Linked DNA regions of Homo sapiens: region 1 is linked to region 2. Evidence: fine-mapped expression QTL. Tissue or cell type: blood mononuclear cells. Region 2 holds a variant in brackets; the other region holds the start of a gene. All regions are shown on one strand. Distances are from middle to middle.

Evidence for each region. PIP is the estimated chance that this variant, and not a neighbour inherited with it, causes the effect.
Region 1: MPRIP starts here. The variant in region 2 is fine-mapped to the expression of MPRIP in blood mononuclear cells (TOPMed, PIP 0.96).

The regions. Positions count from the first base shown.
Region 1 is chr17:17,037,947-17,046,120 of GRCh38, forward strand. MPRIP (myosin phosphatase Rho interacting protein) reads left to right here and starts at 4,511. Exons shown (of 24, transcript NM_001364716.4): 1 at 4,511-5,025. The coding sequence starts at 4,903. It overlaps LOC124903938 (a long non-coding RNA gene), which reads right to left and starts at 4,379. Exons shown (of 3, transcript XR_007065644.1): 1 at 4,325-4,379; 2 at 3,835-3,962; 3 at 1,397-1,811. RefSeq lists silencers at 4,076-4,535, 6,209-6,503 and an enhancer at 5,198-6,397.
Region 2 is chr17:17,018,001-17,026,174 of GRCh38, forward strand. No RefSeq gene overlaps it. Among named protein-coding and RNA genes, the nearest start is that of MPRIP, 20 kb to the right of the region's middle. RefSeq lists an enhancer at 1,772-2,719. The variant A/G (reference allele first, on the strand shown) is at 4,395.

The sequences.
Region 1 (8,174 bases), 20 kb after region 2:
TGAGAGCCCAGCTCTCAGGTGTGGAGAACTGCTTGGCAGTTTCCCATCAGGTTAAACATTCACTTCCCAAAACTTAGCCATCCCTAGTCTTGGGTATTCCCAATAGAAATAAGTGCTTGGCCGGGCGCGGTGGCTCATGCCTGTAATCCCAGCACTTTGGGAGGCCGAGGCAGGCAGATCACGAGGTCAGGAGATCGAGACCATCCTCACACAGTGAAACCCCGTCTCTACTAAAAAAATACAAAAAAAATTAGCCGGGCGTGATGGCGAGTGCCTGTAGTCCCAGCTACTCAGAAGGCTGAGGCAGGAGAATGGCCTGAACCCAGGAGGCGGAGCTTGCAGTGAGCCAAGATCGTGCCACTGCACTCCAGCCTGGGCGAAAGAGCGAGACTCCATCTCAAACAAAAAAAAAAAAAAAAAAGAAAGAAGTGCTTATGTCCACCAAAGACAAGCACGAAGATACTCGTAGCATTATTCATAATGGCCCCAAACTGGAAACATCCTGAATGTCTATCCACGGGAACATGGACAGATAAATTGTAGTATTTCCACACAAGGGACTACCAGGCAGCAATGAAAAAGAATGAAGTACTGATATATACAGTAGCCGTGTGGATTGAATTTCACAGGCATACTGTTGAATGAGAAGAGCCAGGCATAGCTCGCAGCGGATTCCACTCATCTATGGTGATGGAGATCAAAATAGTGGTTACCTCTGGGTATCTGTGTGTAAATTCTGCTCCCTAACAGGACACAGGGAAAACTTCCCAGGATGGCAGTCAGAGCCACAAATCAAGACTTACCTGCATTTGGGGCTCACCTGAGCGGCCTTTTCTTGCTTGCTTGCTTATTTGCTTTTTTGAGATAAACAATATACATTGAGGTGTACACAATGCAGTGAAAAAAGCATACAGCCCAGTGAATCTTTACATGTTTACACTGAGTATTGAACTTCATGCAAAGTGCTGTTCTAGGCCCCTGGAAAGGGAAGCCAAGGTTATGAGACACAGACTGTGTCGGTATGGATTTCATAATCTGGTGGAGGAGATATTACAATACAAGGTGGAACGATGACTTTTCATCCATTCACCCATGGGGTGTTTTTCTTGTTTGTTTTGTTTTTTGAGACAGAGTCTCACTCTGTCGCCCAGGCTGGAGTGCAGTGGCACGATCTCGGCTCACTGCAAGCTCCGCCTCCCGGGTTCATGCCATTATCCTGCCTCAGCCTCCCTAGTAGCTGGGACTACAGGCGCCTGCCACCAAGCCTGGCTAATTTTTTGTATATTTAGTAGAGACAGGGTTTCACTGTGTTAGCCAGGATGGTCTCGAACTCCTGATCTCATGATCCGCCCGCCTCGGCCTCCCAAAGTGCTGGGACTACAGGTGTGAGCCACTGCACCCCCATGGGGTGTTTTTGAGCCCCTGCTCTATGCCAGGCACTGAACTAGACAGGGGAAATGGAGTAGCAACCAAGACCCCACTCTACCGTGAGGGTTTTGGAGAGGAGCGCAACTAATTGATTCTACCTCCTAAACATTTTCCAAATTCATTCCCTTGCCTCCCACTGACCCTATCCTAGTCAGGCTGCTACCCTCTCTCCTCTGCAGCTCTCTCAGTCCTTGCCCCTGATTCATTCTCCAGATCAGCAGCCCTTACCTAAGTGCTCAGCCGAAAAAAATTCAAAATTGATGACTGCCCCTGGCCCAGGCAGCTCCGGTGCTGGCCTGTGTGGGCTCAAATCTTCACTTGTAGGATCTATAATTGTGACCACAGGCAAGTTCCTGATATGTCCTGAGCCTCGTGTGTGTCTTCTATAAAATGGAGATGAAATAGTATTAACAACAAAAACCATACCTGTCTCCCTGAAGAGGCTAGGCTTGCACCATCCACTACTCCTCCCAGTGCCTCTCAATGCTGGTCACTCCTGCCTCTCTGAACTACCCAGTGATAGAAAGCTGCTTCTGTTCATGAACACACCCTTTGGTTTCAAGGCCTGAGACTCTATAATTGGTGCCCCAGTTTGACGTGTCTTTCCCTTCACCTTCTCTGGCTGGGTCTTACTCAGCTCCAGACTCGGCCTAGGCATTGCCTCCTCCAGGAGCCTTCCCTGAAGCTGCCTACGGGGCTGGGTGCCCCTGTGTGGGCCCCCACAACACCCCGGATTGAACTTCTCTGTCTCCTGTTTCTGTTTGTCTCCACTTGCTTGAGTGTGGGCTCCTGCCGGGCAGGCTGCCTCTGAGTTGCTGAATGAAACTCTTCTTTGCGCCCCTACTGTGGACCCCTCCAGTCCAGTGCAGGTGCTGGATGTGCCTACTGACCTGAGCAGAACATGCTGAGCACTTTAAGGGAGGTGGCCTTGAGGAATGGGCAGGACATCAAGAAAGAAAATATATATATATATATATATATATATGTATGTATATATATATTTTTAAACAAGTTGTACATGCAGACAATACTAAATTCAGCAGAAACAAAAGGGATTGCAATGAAAATTAAAAGTAGGTCACCTCTCAACCACCCAGCTCCCCTCCCCAGTGGCCACCTCTTCTATCAGTTTCTGAGTATTCTCTGCAGGGCAGAATTGTCAGTCTTCCGTCCCTTTTTTATTTTGCAAAAATTTAAAGCAACAGAAAAGTTGCAAGAATAGTACAATAAGGCCGGGCGCGGTGGCTCACGCCTGTAATCCCAGCACTTTGGGAGGCCGAGGCGGGCGGATCACGAGGTCAGGAGATCGAGACCATCCCGGCTAAAACGGTGAAACCCCGTCTCTACTAAAAATACAAAAAATTAGCCGGGCGTAGTGGCGGGCGCCTGTAGTCCCAGCTACTCGGGAGGCTGAGGCAGGAGAATGGTGTGAACCCGGGAGGCGGAGCTTGCAGTGAGCCGAGATCCCGCCACTGCACTCCAGCCTGGGCGACAGAGCGAGACTCCGTCTCAAAAAAAAAAAAAAAAAAAAAAAAAAAAAAGAATAGTACAATAAACACCTTTTGCCTAGATTCACCAATTAACATTATGCTACTTAACAAGCATTATATCATTTAATGTTCACATTAATTAATTAATGCCAATTTTGTACATGAGGTCACTGAGGCACCAGGCAGGTTAAGGGACTTGCCCGAGGCCACAGAGCTCCTGCCTGGTGGAGCTGGGCTTTCCCCCTTAGGCTGCCAAAGGACTTTGATCTGCCTTCCCACAGCTCCCTTTTGAGGAAAAGCATTTTCTTACACTAAGTTGAAATCCACCTCCCTGGGATATTTACCAGATGATCCGTGGAAAAGTACACAGCTCTGGAAGCATTTGCTACTTCTCCTCCTAAAACCTCCTCCATTCCCTGAGCGACAGCTGCTGTGGCTGCCACTACCACATGCTCCAATGTCACCTCCTCCGTGAAGGCTGGGTTAGCTCACCCCCCTGTTTAAAGACTCACCATGACTCCCAGCTGCCAGTGGGATGACATGTGCACGCCTGGGCTTGGAATACAAGGCCTGGGTGATAGAGCCCTCTTCCAATCCCTCTTGCTCCTTCTTCCCCTATCTCCACTTCCAGCCACACTCAACCCTCTCACTGTCCACTTAAACTTCCCCTCCTCCTTGAAGCCACCCGAATTTTTCTAAAGAGCGCATTTCTCCCCTCTCTGGGCTCCTGCAACCTTCTGCCTGAGCCTTTGACAGCCTTTTCCAGGTTGTCTTTTGGCCAGGAGGCTGGACAATGGAGGACGGGAGTGACAGCTCGGCCCCTTCCTAGCAGAGTGATCCTACACAAATTACTCCAGGTGTCTGACCCTTCATTTCCTCAAGCACATCATGGGGGAAAGAATGCCTAGCTCAGCACCTGGCAGAGAGTCAGCCTTCGCTCATCTCCCCTAATGGAGCTGACAGCTCTTCAAGTCCGCTGACATCTTCTCTTAGTCATCCCTTGAAATACTACCCGCTGTTACTTCTCTGCTCCTCAGTCTCCTCCTATGTAAAATGGGGATGAGAAAGGAGAGGTTGCGAACCTTTAATGAGCGAGCCCTTGGAGTATCCAGCCCTTCCCGACGCTAACTGACTCCTACGAGGGGGCCTGGTACACAGTAGGTGCTAAACTAATCCTCTCCGAGCTGGGCTTGGGGAAGATGCCTCCGTTGGGTGTACAGCGTGGGCGCGGGAAGGCGAGCCTGGGAGCGAGGGGGTTGCAGAGAGGCAGCCTGAGGTCGGCTCCGCCTTCCCCCGCATCCCCCGCCCGGGCCCTGCAGCTGTCAGCCCGGCCGGCCTCGGCGCCAGTCCACCAAACCTGAACGTCCCATGCCGGCGCCCCCACCTTCCCGGCCTGCACAACTTACCTTGCGCTCGGCGGCCCTCGGTCCCGCCCCCGACTGCCATTGGCCCAGAGGTTCCTTTGTTAGCGAGAGCGCGCCAACCCCATTGGCCGGTGGGGCTGCCGATCGCGTCGGGCGCGGCCCCGCCCCGTACGCCCCGGCACCTCCCCGCGCCCGGCCGCCCGCCCGCCCGCCCGCCCGCCCGCCCCCGTAGTGCGTGAGGCGCTCCGGTCCCATTTGCAGCGGCCGCGGGGCGCCGAGGGCAGCTGCGGCGGCGCGGACGAGCCGGGACGGCGGCGACCGGAGCCTGAGAGGCGGGCCGCAGCGGGAAGCAGCGGGCCCGAGGCCGCGTCCATGGGCCCGCGGCGGCCGGGCGGCGGCGGTGCGGGCGGGAGCTGGGCGTCGCGCGCGCTGTGAGGCCCGGGCGGCTCAGGAGCCTCGGCGCGTGCAGCGAACCGCCCGCCGGGAAGGAGGCCGGGCCGGGCCTGCGGCGGGGCCGGCGAGGGATGCGGCGCGGCCGCGCTGAGCCCCTAGCCCGCCGGGAGCGCCAGGCCGGCCAGGCCTGCGCCGCCGCCGCCGCCGCCGTCGCCGCCGCGCCGACCATGTCGGCAGCCAAGGAGAACCCGTGCAGGAAATTCCAGGCCAACATCTTCAACAAGAGCAAGTGTCAGAACTGCTTCAAGCCCCGCGAGTCGCATCTGCTCAACGACGAGGACCTGACGCAGGTGAGCGACTGGGGCCGGCCCGGACACCTCCGTTCTGGGAGCCGCGGGTCGGCGGCCGGGGCGCCGCCAAGGGCTGCAGGGAAAATAAAAATGGAGCAGGGAAATGCGCGAGTCCTGGGGCATGGGGACGGGGACGGGAAGTGCATTGACAGAGCTGGGACAAAGGGAAAATCCTCGAGTATGCCGAAAAATAACATCCTTTCCCGTTCCCATTGCCCGGCTGTGTGATTCATGCTTTTTGGGTGACTCAAAAGTGCCTGGTTTCGCTTAGTAGGAACAAAGCGCTTAGGGATTGCATGCCGCTTGACGGGACCCCCCTGAGATTCTGGCTTGGGACTGGACTTGGATTTGTCCAGCCAGAGTGGCCCAGGGGTCGGATTGTTGGGGAGGACTGTGGGCTTCCGTCTAGTGGGACGCAGCCTGCCCCGATTCTGAATCATCGTCACTGTCAAGCACTGGAGAGAGGTGAAGGGGTGTCCAAATCTGGCGAGGAGGGTCTTGTTCTTGAACTTAGTTTGGCAGGCCGTAGTTTAGCGGGGAGCTGGGACCAGTTCCCTGGTCACTGGCCGAGGGGTGAGGAGACCTGTGGGTCCTCGGGAAAGTTGATTTCTGTCTCCCAGCCTTAACTGTCAAACAGGGCTTTGAACTAGTTATGACTCCCAAACGTGCATTAGAGTCATAGCCATTAAACACAGAGTTCTGGGGCCCCCGCCCTGGAGTGACTGGGGAGATGGGGAATTTGTATTGATGAAAGGCTCCAAGAGGCTTGGCTGCAGCCCCCATGGCCCTTGGGAACCCCTGCAGTGATTGCTGTTTGAACTCCTAGTGTTCCAGGATTCCGAGCCTTGTGTGCACCTCCTTGGGATGTGCCTCGGTACCCTCCCCACGGCCATCATCTCCATCCTCTTCAGAGCTTTCTCTCAGCCTCCTGAATGAAGCCAGGGGAAGTCCCTTCACATTCCAGTCCAGTGTGACCTAGTTGTAGCCACTCCTGTCGCAGAAGAACCCCTTAGACTGAAAACGAGTGAACGGGCCTGGTTGTTTTTAATGCCACTTCAGTGCACCCAGGGTTTGACTTGTTTACATGGCCGACTGGAGTAGGGTGGTGGGGCAGGGGTTACGGCCTGGGGCACGGGGCCTTTCTCTGAGGTCAGGTTTCCAACTGCCAGGAAAAGATTCCTTTCATCTAAACCCCAAAAGCTTAACGAAACACTCAAGGCTGCAAAGTCATAGATGGTTAAGATACCAAGGGTTTTAAGGACGGTCAGCTTGGGACGGATAGAACTCATTTACCTCGGAGGGTGTTTTGGAGTGTAAAGGAGAACTTGATTCCTTCTTCTCATCTGGATGCTTTTTTGGATGAAACAGTTTATGCGATGAGGAGTTGTTAGGAGACTTTGCTTCAGGTCTTGGCTGTCACTTCCAGCTGTGTGACCTTGAACAAATCCCTTTACTTCTGTATCTTTTAATTTCCTTATCTGTAAATTGGGAATCCTGGTCCCTGGCTTACCTCCTTCACTGAGCATTTGTGAAAAGCAAGAAATGATATTTTATGAAACTTTTTTCTCTTACAATTTAACAAACCAAAAAAACCTGCCACTTTAAGAAGTTTCTGGGCAAGGGTTGTTCTGAGAGAGGTTTGTAAGTTTCCTGGTTATTCTAAGCAACTGTCAAAATTGGTAAATTTACACCTCATAGGGGCTGTTTTCGAATTCTTAAGCTTAGATAAACTAGGATGGAATCTGCATGTTTGAGTCCAATCTGCTAAGATTTTTTTTAATCTGTTGATTATTAATTGGATTCACGGGGAGAGGCAAACTTAAAATACTGTACTCTCACTGTATTCAAAGTTGAATTGTGGGTTTTGAAACAGGCCTGAGACCTTCAGGGCACAACTGGAATGGTAGTTTCTGAAATAATGAGTGGGGTTATTTGTGCTGGGAGAGGTTAGCCCAGCATTCTACCTCCTGGGATCTTTCAGGAAGAAACTGCTCTTGAAAAGAGAGGAGGGAGACTCAGGGCTGTTGCCAACAGCCTTCTCTGCTGCTCTCTGCATCCGGCCCTCCCTCTCACTCTCATCCTTATGGCTCCATTAGAAAACCTCAACCAATCGGTTCCCATCAGTCTCCCCCAAGCCCCTGCTTCCTGCTGCCCCTCCCAGCCTGGAGCTTATTTTAGACCGTCAAAGCTGGAAGATACATCAGCCACCATCGAGGCCACTCCCTCCTTAAGAGGAGAGGATACTGGGCCCAGGGAGGTGGTGGGCAGCCTTGGCCGGCTTTTGCTCTGGAGATGTCATCTTCCCAGGAGCAGACATTTCTCTGAGCCTTTTGGTTTGAGGTTTATTTCCTCAGCTGTGGGTTTTGTTTGTTTGTTTTTCCCCTAGAGAGGCACAGAAACCTCTTGCAGGGACTGTATTATGGCATCAGACCTGGAAGGGACTTGGAGATCAGCTAATGTAACCACTTCCTCTTACCGGTGAGAAGATTGAAACCCAGAGAAGGGAAGTGACTTGCCCAGTTCAGGGATGGAGCCAGGATTCTGAAGCCAATGTTAGTTCCCCTACTCCTGTTCAGGGTCTACAGTGGCCACACCATGAGCACATGATGAGGACAATAATGTCAGGGATAGTTATGTTGCAGGAGGTGCCTTGAGAATGCTGGCTTGGAGCAGTGGAGTTCTTTGCCTTTTCCTCCTCACGGAAATTTGGAGTAATCTGGGATAAGTGATAAGTGACCGTCCTTTATTACTTGTTCCAGGCCCCTGTTCACAGAGTGTCATTTATCCTCCAGTTTTCCTGTGCATTTCTCAGCGACATACGGACCCAAATATACAGTTTTTTTTTTTTTTTTGAGGCGGAGTCTCGCTCTGTTGCCCAGGCTGGTGTGCAGTGGCGCGATCTGAGCTCACTGCAAGCTACGCCTCCCAGGTTCATGCCATTCTTCTGCCTCAGCCTCCCGAGTAGCTGGGACTACAGGCACCCGCCACCATGCCTGGCTAATTTTTTGTATTTTTAGTAGAGACGAGGTTTCACTGTGTTAGCCAGGATGGTCTTGATCTCCTGACCTCGTGATCCGCCTGCCTCGGCCTCCCAAAGTGCCGGGATTACAGGCGTGAGTCACTGTGCCCAGCTCAAATATACAGTTAAA
Region 2 (8,174 bases):
CACCCCAGGCCCGGCCACAAGGATATGGGCCGTGCTTCTGGCTGCCTGGGGCTTTCTCTGCGACACATTGCACCCCACGGGGAACCGCAGAACCAGCTCCATCACCATCAACCCAGAACTGCTGGCAGCCAATGCCCGTGAGAGTTGGGTTCAACACCCCAGCTGGCTGGCCGGGCTGGGGAGCCTCTGAGGTATGTTCTGCTCCCCCAGGGAGGGAGCTCCATGTGCCCACAGCGCTCCCTGTCACCCCCTCCACCCCGCCAGGAAGGGATCCTCCCCCAGGGATGGAGGTTCAGGTGCCCAGAGTGCTCCCTGGCACAGCCTGCCTCGGCTCTTTCTCTTGCCTGCCTCACTTCCTGCCTCATTTCCTGACTCAGCAACTGGTGTTTTCTGGACCCCTCCACATACGCTCAGATCCTCCTCTCAGGTCGGGGGAGCCCACCATAGCCAGGGCTCTTCCCAGAGACATACATGTATCCCCACTCTCAGGCCCTAGCCACTCGATGTCACCTGATGTTCCTGAACTATGACTCCCACAAAAGGTTGGGATCCATCCTTCCTGCTCACCGCTGAACCCCCAACTCCAGGCAGAGCCCCTGTGCATCGCAGACTCCTGGTAGGTGTTGTTGGAGGATGGTGAGGTGGGCCCTGAAGGCCAGGGAGGCTGAGGAAGAGTCCCCAGGCCAGGGAGAGAGAGGCTCAGCCAGACCTCCTGGGCCAGGAGCCCTCAGACCTCCCGCAGGTGAGGGACACGCTGTTCTGAACAGAGGCTGAGTGAGTTCTGTCCACAGCAATCCTGTCGAACCTGTCTGGCCGGGTACAGAGCTTCAGGGCCCATATCCACGCTCAGGGGCAGGTGTCCTCAGGCGAGGACCATCAGGCAGCTTTCCCCCTCCAGGGCCCCTCCCTAGACAGGGCTCACACCAGACTTGCCCAGGGCCACAGCCCAGGACAGAGTGTTTGGCCTGTCTAAGGCCCAATATAGATTCCAGAATTCATTCATGGTTGCTGAACATTCCAGTTCAGCTGGGGACATGGGACGGGCAGGAGGGGTCTGCTGCCTAATCTGATGGATCTTCCATCCTGGTGGGGCAGGGGGCAGATGAGAACCAAGTGGGCACACAGGGAGATGGGAACTCAAGGCAGGGGGATGGTGGCAGCTCCATGGGCAGCTCTGAGGGCCAAGGACAGAGGAGGTTGTTTTGGGGGAGTGGGGAAGGTGGCTTGGAGGGGGCGGACTACAAAGACTAGCTTGGGTTGGGGCATGGTGAGTGCAAAGGTCCCGAGGCAGGAAAGAATGAGGATTTTGAGGTCCTGAACAGAGGCTGGCAGTGGGGAGAAAGGACATGGCAGCGGGGGTGGGGAGCAGGCCTCAGGGCCAGGAAGCCATGGGGGCAACCAAGTGTGGTTCTGGGGGCATGGAGGAGCCAAGAGGAGAGGGTGAGGTGGAAGGTGGCCAGACTCGATTTGTGTTTTTAGCAGACTCTGCAGTCAGGACTTGGGATCTGGACCACAGGAAGGGAGAGCGACAGCTGGGATGTGACCATTTTCACTGCAGGGCACCTGGGAAGGGGAGAGGGCGTGAAGTGGCCCAGACGTGGCTTTCCATTGGTGACCTCGTGCCCCACTCTCCACTGCCCCTTTTCACTTAACACTTCAGGAAACAGGTTCAGAGAAGGGAAGGGAATGGCCCAAGGTCCCTTGGCCCAGAATTGTACCTAGACAGGTGCACCTGGTCCCAGACTGCTCTCTTCTCACCACCCCACACTGCCCCCAATCTGTCAGGTAAGAAACTTTGGGTGGGAAGGGAGAAGGAAATTGAACCAGGGAGGTGATTACTGCCTCTCACACACAACTGGGCAGCAGGCGAAAGGCCAGGCGGCCCAGCCCCCTATCCAGGGTCCCCAGAGCTTGTTATTGGTATGTTGTGCTCACCTCCCTGTCCAGGAGTGAGAATTGGCTGTGTCTGACTCCTTGGGAAGGCTGTGTCCCCAGCCTGGGCCCTGTGGGTACTTAGTCATCTCGCACCCCAGAGTCACTCTGACCCCCGATGTGAACTGACCACTGAGCTTCAACAAATTAAGGGCCAAGTGCAGGAACAAAGTTGGATCCCACCCTCTTCTGCTTCCTCAAGCCACGGCCCGGAGTGATGAGCCACCTCCGCTCTGACCTCACCTCCTCCCAGCTCCCTGACTCCTTCGGCGGGGGGCCTGGCCAGCTTGTTCGGCCACTCTGGGCTCCAGGCTCTTCAACTGGAAAGAGATGCTTGTGGAGTTCCTCATGGCAAGTCTGGGCAAGCCAGCCTGACGGCCAGCCTGCGACTCCTTGTCCAGAACTCTGTCAACTCCACCAGTGCCTGTCACGGAAACCGCATGGCCACCAGCTTCAGGTGACAGGCCTCTTGCCTGGGTGATGAGCTTCCCAGGCCCATGCTATGGTGTGCGCTTTTTCACAGGAAGAGGATCGAGAGCAAGGGTCCCATTCTGGTGGTCCTCAGCCCGCATCTGGCCCACAGATGTTTAATTGGGCTGACATAATATATAGTTTTACCTTTTTTTTTTTTTTTTTTTTGAGACGGAGTCTCACTCTGTTGCCCAGGCTGGAGTGCAGTGGCGCCATCTCAGCTCACTACAAGCTCCGCCTCCCAGGTTCACGCCATTCTCCTGCCTCAGCCTCCCGAGTAGCTGGGACTACAGGCACCCGCCACCACACCCGGCTAATTTTTTTGTATTGTTAGTAGAGACAGGGTCTCACCATGTTAACCAGGATGGTCTCGATCTGCTGACCTCGTAATACGCCTGCCTTGGCCTCCCAAAGTGCTGGGATTACAGGCGTGAGCCACCGTGCCCGGTCTAGTTTTACATTTTTAATGCATTGCCAACATTTGAACATGAGTAGCTTTCACACAGAAAGATGGCTCTTTGGCTCCTCTGAAACACTGGACGACCGGGTGCCCTGCAGGGCCACAGTGAGCCAGAGGTGGGGGACATGGGCTCCAGACAAATCCCATGCCGAGCAGACCATGCCAGCCATCAACACCGCAGGCCTGGCCCTTGGGCATTGGAGTAATGGGTCTAGAATTTCCTTCACATTGTCAAAGGAGCCTGTGACCCAGAAATGGTAAGTAAGGTCCGATTCTCACCAACAAAGCAGGCATGACCTCAGACAAGTCCCTACCCTGCTCTGGGCCTCAGTTTCTCCTTTAGTGAGGAGGTGGGTGAGGGTCCTGTCCTCCTCCGGGAACTGGCGATTTGGGAAGGCAGAGACATTCCCAGAATCCGCCGGAGTCCTGAAAACACCCACGCCCTTTGTCCCAGCAATCCTGAGAAAGGCCACACTGATAAAGCTGTGGGTGGCCAGATGACAGCATTCTTGGGCCTCAGACGAAGTGGGAGGGGCCCACCCGCTTAGCTCCTCATAGCCCAGGGGAGCGGGGACAGTGCCTGCTGGGGCCGTGGGCAGCCCGGTGCCAGCCCCTACTGGCATTTCGATGATGCCACAAGTGCCGTGCCACAGCAGGGAGCCGCACAGTCATATTTTGCAAGGTTTTGAGGAAAGAATGCCAGTGTGGTAGGAGGGGAGACCAGTCCCCTCCCTCCCACCCCTCTGGGCTCCATCTGAAGCTGGTTCCTGAGAAGCACGATTGTGCCTTTTCACTGAAGGAGGGGCCCCCAGCTGTACTATGGACTTACTGACTTGTTTCCCAGCTCAGCCTGCCCCGGAGCAGAGCTAGGCAGGACCTTGGTGAAGAGGGTGCAGGGCTGGCCTGGCCTGGTCATGACACTGGGATAAGGAAGCCTGCTCTCCTCCCACCACTTCCAGCTCACAGGGGAATCTGAAACAGCCTCTCCTTTAGGGCTAGGGTTGCCTTTCAGCCACAGCGCCTATAAACCCATCACGGCACAGTGTTTGCCAGATAAGGCATCATCTTGGGTGAAAAATGTAGATTTTTCATCCTACGCAAGTAGGATGAAATCCAAATGGACTTATGGAGACACAGACACCTTTGTTTCAACACCTGGCCACAAGGCCCCCCAAAAGCTTCTATAAACAAAAGGGCTGACAGACCTAGCTCATCCGGTAGGCCCAGATCTTCCTTGCCCGGGGTGCCATGCAGGCAACCCACCCCGGGCTAGGGCAGTGGAGGCTTGATGACCAGGTGAGCTTGGGAGTCCCTGGGCAGAGGCAGGTCTCAGTCCCAGGGCCTTGGGTCTGCTGCTGGGTGTGATGAGTTAATAAGGAGGGCATGGTGTGCAGAATGAGCTCGGGTCCTGGCCATGGGACATCTGGCCAGCACTGTGCCCCTTGGAGCCCATCTTTCCATGGGATCATTAGAGTCCTTCTCTTGCAGCTGTTGGGAGAATGAAACACAAGGAAAGCCCAGGACCAGTACC[A/G]GGCACAGGGTCAGTGGCGACAGGTGAGACCACTCCATGTCCCCAGACACATCTGTCCTCTGAGCCTTTCACCTTGGGCTTGCCACTGGACTATCTCTCAAGTAGAAGGGGCTATGGGCGCCCCTCCCTGGTGGTCAGCAGTGGGGTGACCACCTCCTAAGGCAGTGAGTTCCCCATCAATGCGCGTGGCGGTTACTGAAGTGGGGCTGGGGCTGGAGCTGAGCCTGCTGGCTGGGAGAGGGGAAGGCTGCAGTGGCTGGGGAGCCAGGTCCAACCCAGCAGCCTGGTGGCCCCTTCCCACTCTCAGGGAATATCCCACACCTTCCCTGAGCACTGCCTCTGGGCCAGGCCCTGCTGGGAAGGGAGCTGAGAATACCACAGACTGGTCCCCACCCTTGTGGGGCTCATAGGCTGAGGCTGCTAAGTAACATCCCTGTCCCTGTGACACTCGGAACAGGAAGTCAAGAAAGAAGGTTCAGGAATCCTTTGCTGTTTTCCTAATACCAGACCCATCTTTTTCTTTAGCATGTCAACAACTCCCCTCCCTTCTGCGCCTGGAGATTCCTCTTTCTCCTTCAATACATATTTTGAAATGATATTTATTAACATAAAAATTATAAAACCTTTCAAACATCCAGAAAAATATAAGGAAAAATACCAAATATCCATGTTCTCACCACTTGGATTTAACACATGTGAACATTTGCCATGCTTCAGATCCTCCTTTTAAAACAAAATTGTATGACACAGCAATTGATGAACGGATCATCAGTACAATGGACTGTTATTCAGTCGCAGACAGGAATGATGTGTGGACTTGCCATGGTGTGCATGAGCCTCGAAGACATGATGCTGAGTGAAGGAATCAGACACAAAATGCTGCAGATTGTCTGATCCCATGTATTGAAATGTCCAGCTCAGGCAAATCCGTGGAGACAGAAAGCAGGCGAGTGTCTACCAGGGGCTGCGGGGAGGGGATGGGGAGTGACCACTTAGTGGGTACAGGGCTTCCTTTTGGGGTGAAGAAAATCTTTTAAACTTAGGTCATGGTGATGGATGCACAACTATTTTACTAGAATAAAAAATCACTGAATTGTACAATTTAAATGAATGAATTTTCTGGCATGGGGATTGTATCTCTCTCTCTCTCTTTTTTTTTTTTTTTTTAAGATGGAGTCTCTCTCTGTCACCCAGGCTGGAGTGCGATGTTACAATCTAGGCCCACTGCAACCTCTGTCTCCTGGGTTCAAGCGATTCTCTCACCTCTGCCCCCTGAGTAGCTGGGACTATAGGCACCCACTACCACACCCGAGTTAATTTTGTATTTTTAGTAGAGACAGGGTTTCACCATGTTGGCCAGGCTGATCTCAAACTCCTGACTTCAAGTGATCCACCTGCCTTGACCTCCCAAAGTGCTGGGATTACAGGCATGAGCCACCACGCCTGGCGAGTGGACTGTATCGCAATAAAAATGTGCATTAGTCTACTAGGGCTGCTGTGGCAAAATACCATGGACTGGGTGGCTAAAACAAGCAATTTTCTCAGAGTTCTGGGGGCTGTAAGTCCCAGATCAAGGTGTCTGTGGACAGGGCCTTCTGAGGGCTGTGCAGGAAGGCTCTGTTCTGGGACTGTCTCCTTGGCACGGTAGCGCTGTCTTCCCCCCATGTCTCTTCTCCTTGTCTTCCCTCTATGCACATCTCTGGGTCCAAATTCCCCCCCACCTTTTTTTTTTTTTCTTTGAGATGGAGTCTTGCTCTGTTGCCCAGGGTGGAGTGCAGTGGCACAATCTTGGCTTCACTGCAACCTCCGCCTCCCGGGTTCAAGTGATTCTCCTGCCTCAGCCTCCCGAGTAGCTGGGACTACAGGCACCCGCCACCACGCCCAGGTAATTTTTGTATTTTTAGTAGAGACGGGGTTTCACCATATTGGCCAGACTGATCTGGAACTCCTGACCTTGTGATCTGCTCGCCTTGGCCTCCCAAAGTGCTGGGATTACAGGCGTGAGCCACCATGCCCGGACCCAAATTTCCCCTTTTTATGAGGGCACGGGTCATGCTGGATAAGGGCTCACACTACTGACGTCAGTTTAACTTGATGACCTCTGTAAAGAGCCCATCTCCACATAGAGAGAGATAATTATTGCTCCTGTTGCTGTGGCTACTGATGCCATTTGGGGGATTCGTGGCAAGAAGGATGAACTGAGAGCGTCCGCGACATTGGGATCCAGGCTGGCAGCATCTTCCTGGCCGTCCGAGAGGGCTCTTTTCCCCGCCTGGGTGCCTGATCCTACCTACCCTATGCCCTGTGGCCCCCAGTGCTAAATTCCCGAAAAGCCTGGTAGGCCCTTGGTGCCACGAAGCCCCCGAGATCCCAAGTACAAAGCACAGGCAGAAACTGTAGGGGCAGGGGGAGCCACGGCAGGCCTCGGAGAGCTCGGGGAAGGCCACACAGCTCTGGGCTTCCGCCTGCTGTCCAGAGGCTATTAGTAAGGACAGAGCCTGGTGCCAGAGGTCAGGGCAGGTGGGAAGCAGGAGACCCTGAGGCACCCCATTCCTCGAGCAGGGCTCCAGCCAGGCTTGTTGGGAAGTACTTGACTCCATCCCCCATGCCCCACATGGGTAGGCCCCTCTCCCTTGGGTCAGGGCCAACCACATGGTCCTGCTGAAAGCCAGCCCCCTCCCTTCGGTGACCATGGCCTCCCGAGGGACTCAGGGTTGGGAGAGCAGCCAGGAGTATCTCCAAAAGCCAGGAGCTGACTGAATCCACAGCCAGACCACTTGCTCTCTGCAGAACCTTCCTGAGAAAGAACAGGGCTCCTGTCTAGCTGTCCCAGAGGGCAGCCGGGCCCACACCCCTGGCCAGGGGCATCCCCACCCCCTCTGATATATCACCCCACATGGCCCATGGCTGGCTCTGTTAAGGGGCACCCTCAAAAGCAGGCTCTGACATAGGGTTGGGGACAAGTTGTTTTGGGGGACATATGGTCCCAGGAAACACCAATAGAGGAGGGAGGAGGTAGACCTGAGGGAGGGAGGCCAAAGTGACCTATGTTAGTGAGTGGGGCCTTGCTGTGGGCCTGGCTCCCCTGGAGACCCTGCAGAGAGGCACAGCACCCTGTACTCTCCCTCCTGGAGCCCAGTAGTGGGTGTCACTCACTAACTCACAGCCCTTATTGCTCTGAGCTCCCGGGATTTCTGTCCCACCTCTCTGGAGGTGACAGGCACAGGATCCCTGGGCTGGGCAGGGACTGTCTGTCAGGACCTCAGGAATACCCCAAGCACAGGCAGCAAAAGCATATGCTTCCCCCACAGAGGGGTCAGGCTTGGGTCCCCTGAAGCACTTCTAGCTGTGCAGCTGTGGGCAAGTCACAGTGAGCTGTTGCTGACAGCAAAGGCGCTAGAATGTCAGCTCCCTGAGCAAAGGGGCTGGGTCTGTTCTGTTTCCTGCTTTATACCCAGAGCCCAGCCCAGGGTCTGGCACACGCAGTGCTTGGCTAATATTTGTAGGTAAATGTCTCGTGGCTCATGGTGTAAATCTCACTATCAATCATTGGTACCAATTCATTGACACTTCCTATGTGCCAGGCACGGCGCTGGGTGCTTGGCACCTCATTTCTGCTCTGGATAATCCATTGTTGTTACAGTAGTAGGATCACCCCCAAACATACACATGATGAAACGGAAGCAGAGAAACCAAGGTCACCCAGCCAAAAGTAGCAGAGATTTAAGCCAGGTTCCAGAGCCTGCATTTCTTATTCATTAAAAAAAATTAGGCCGGGCA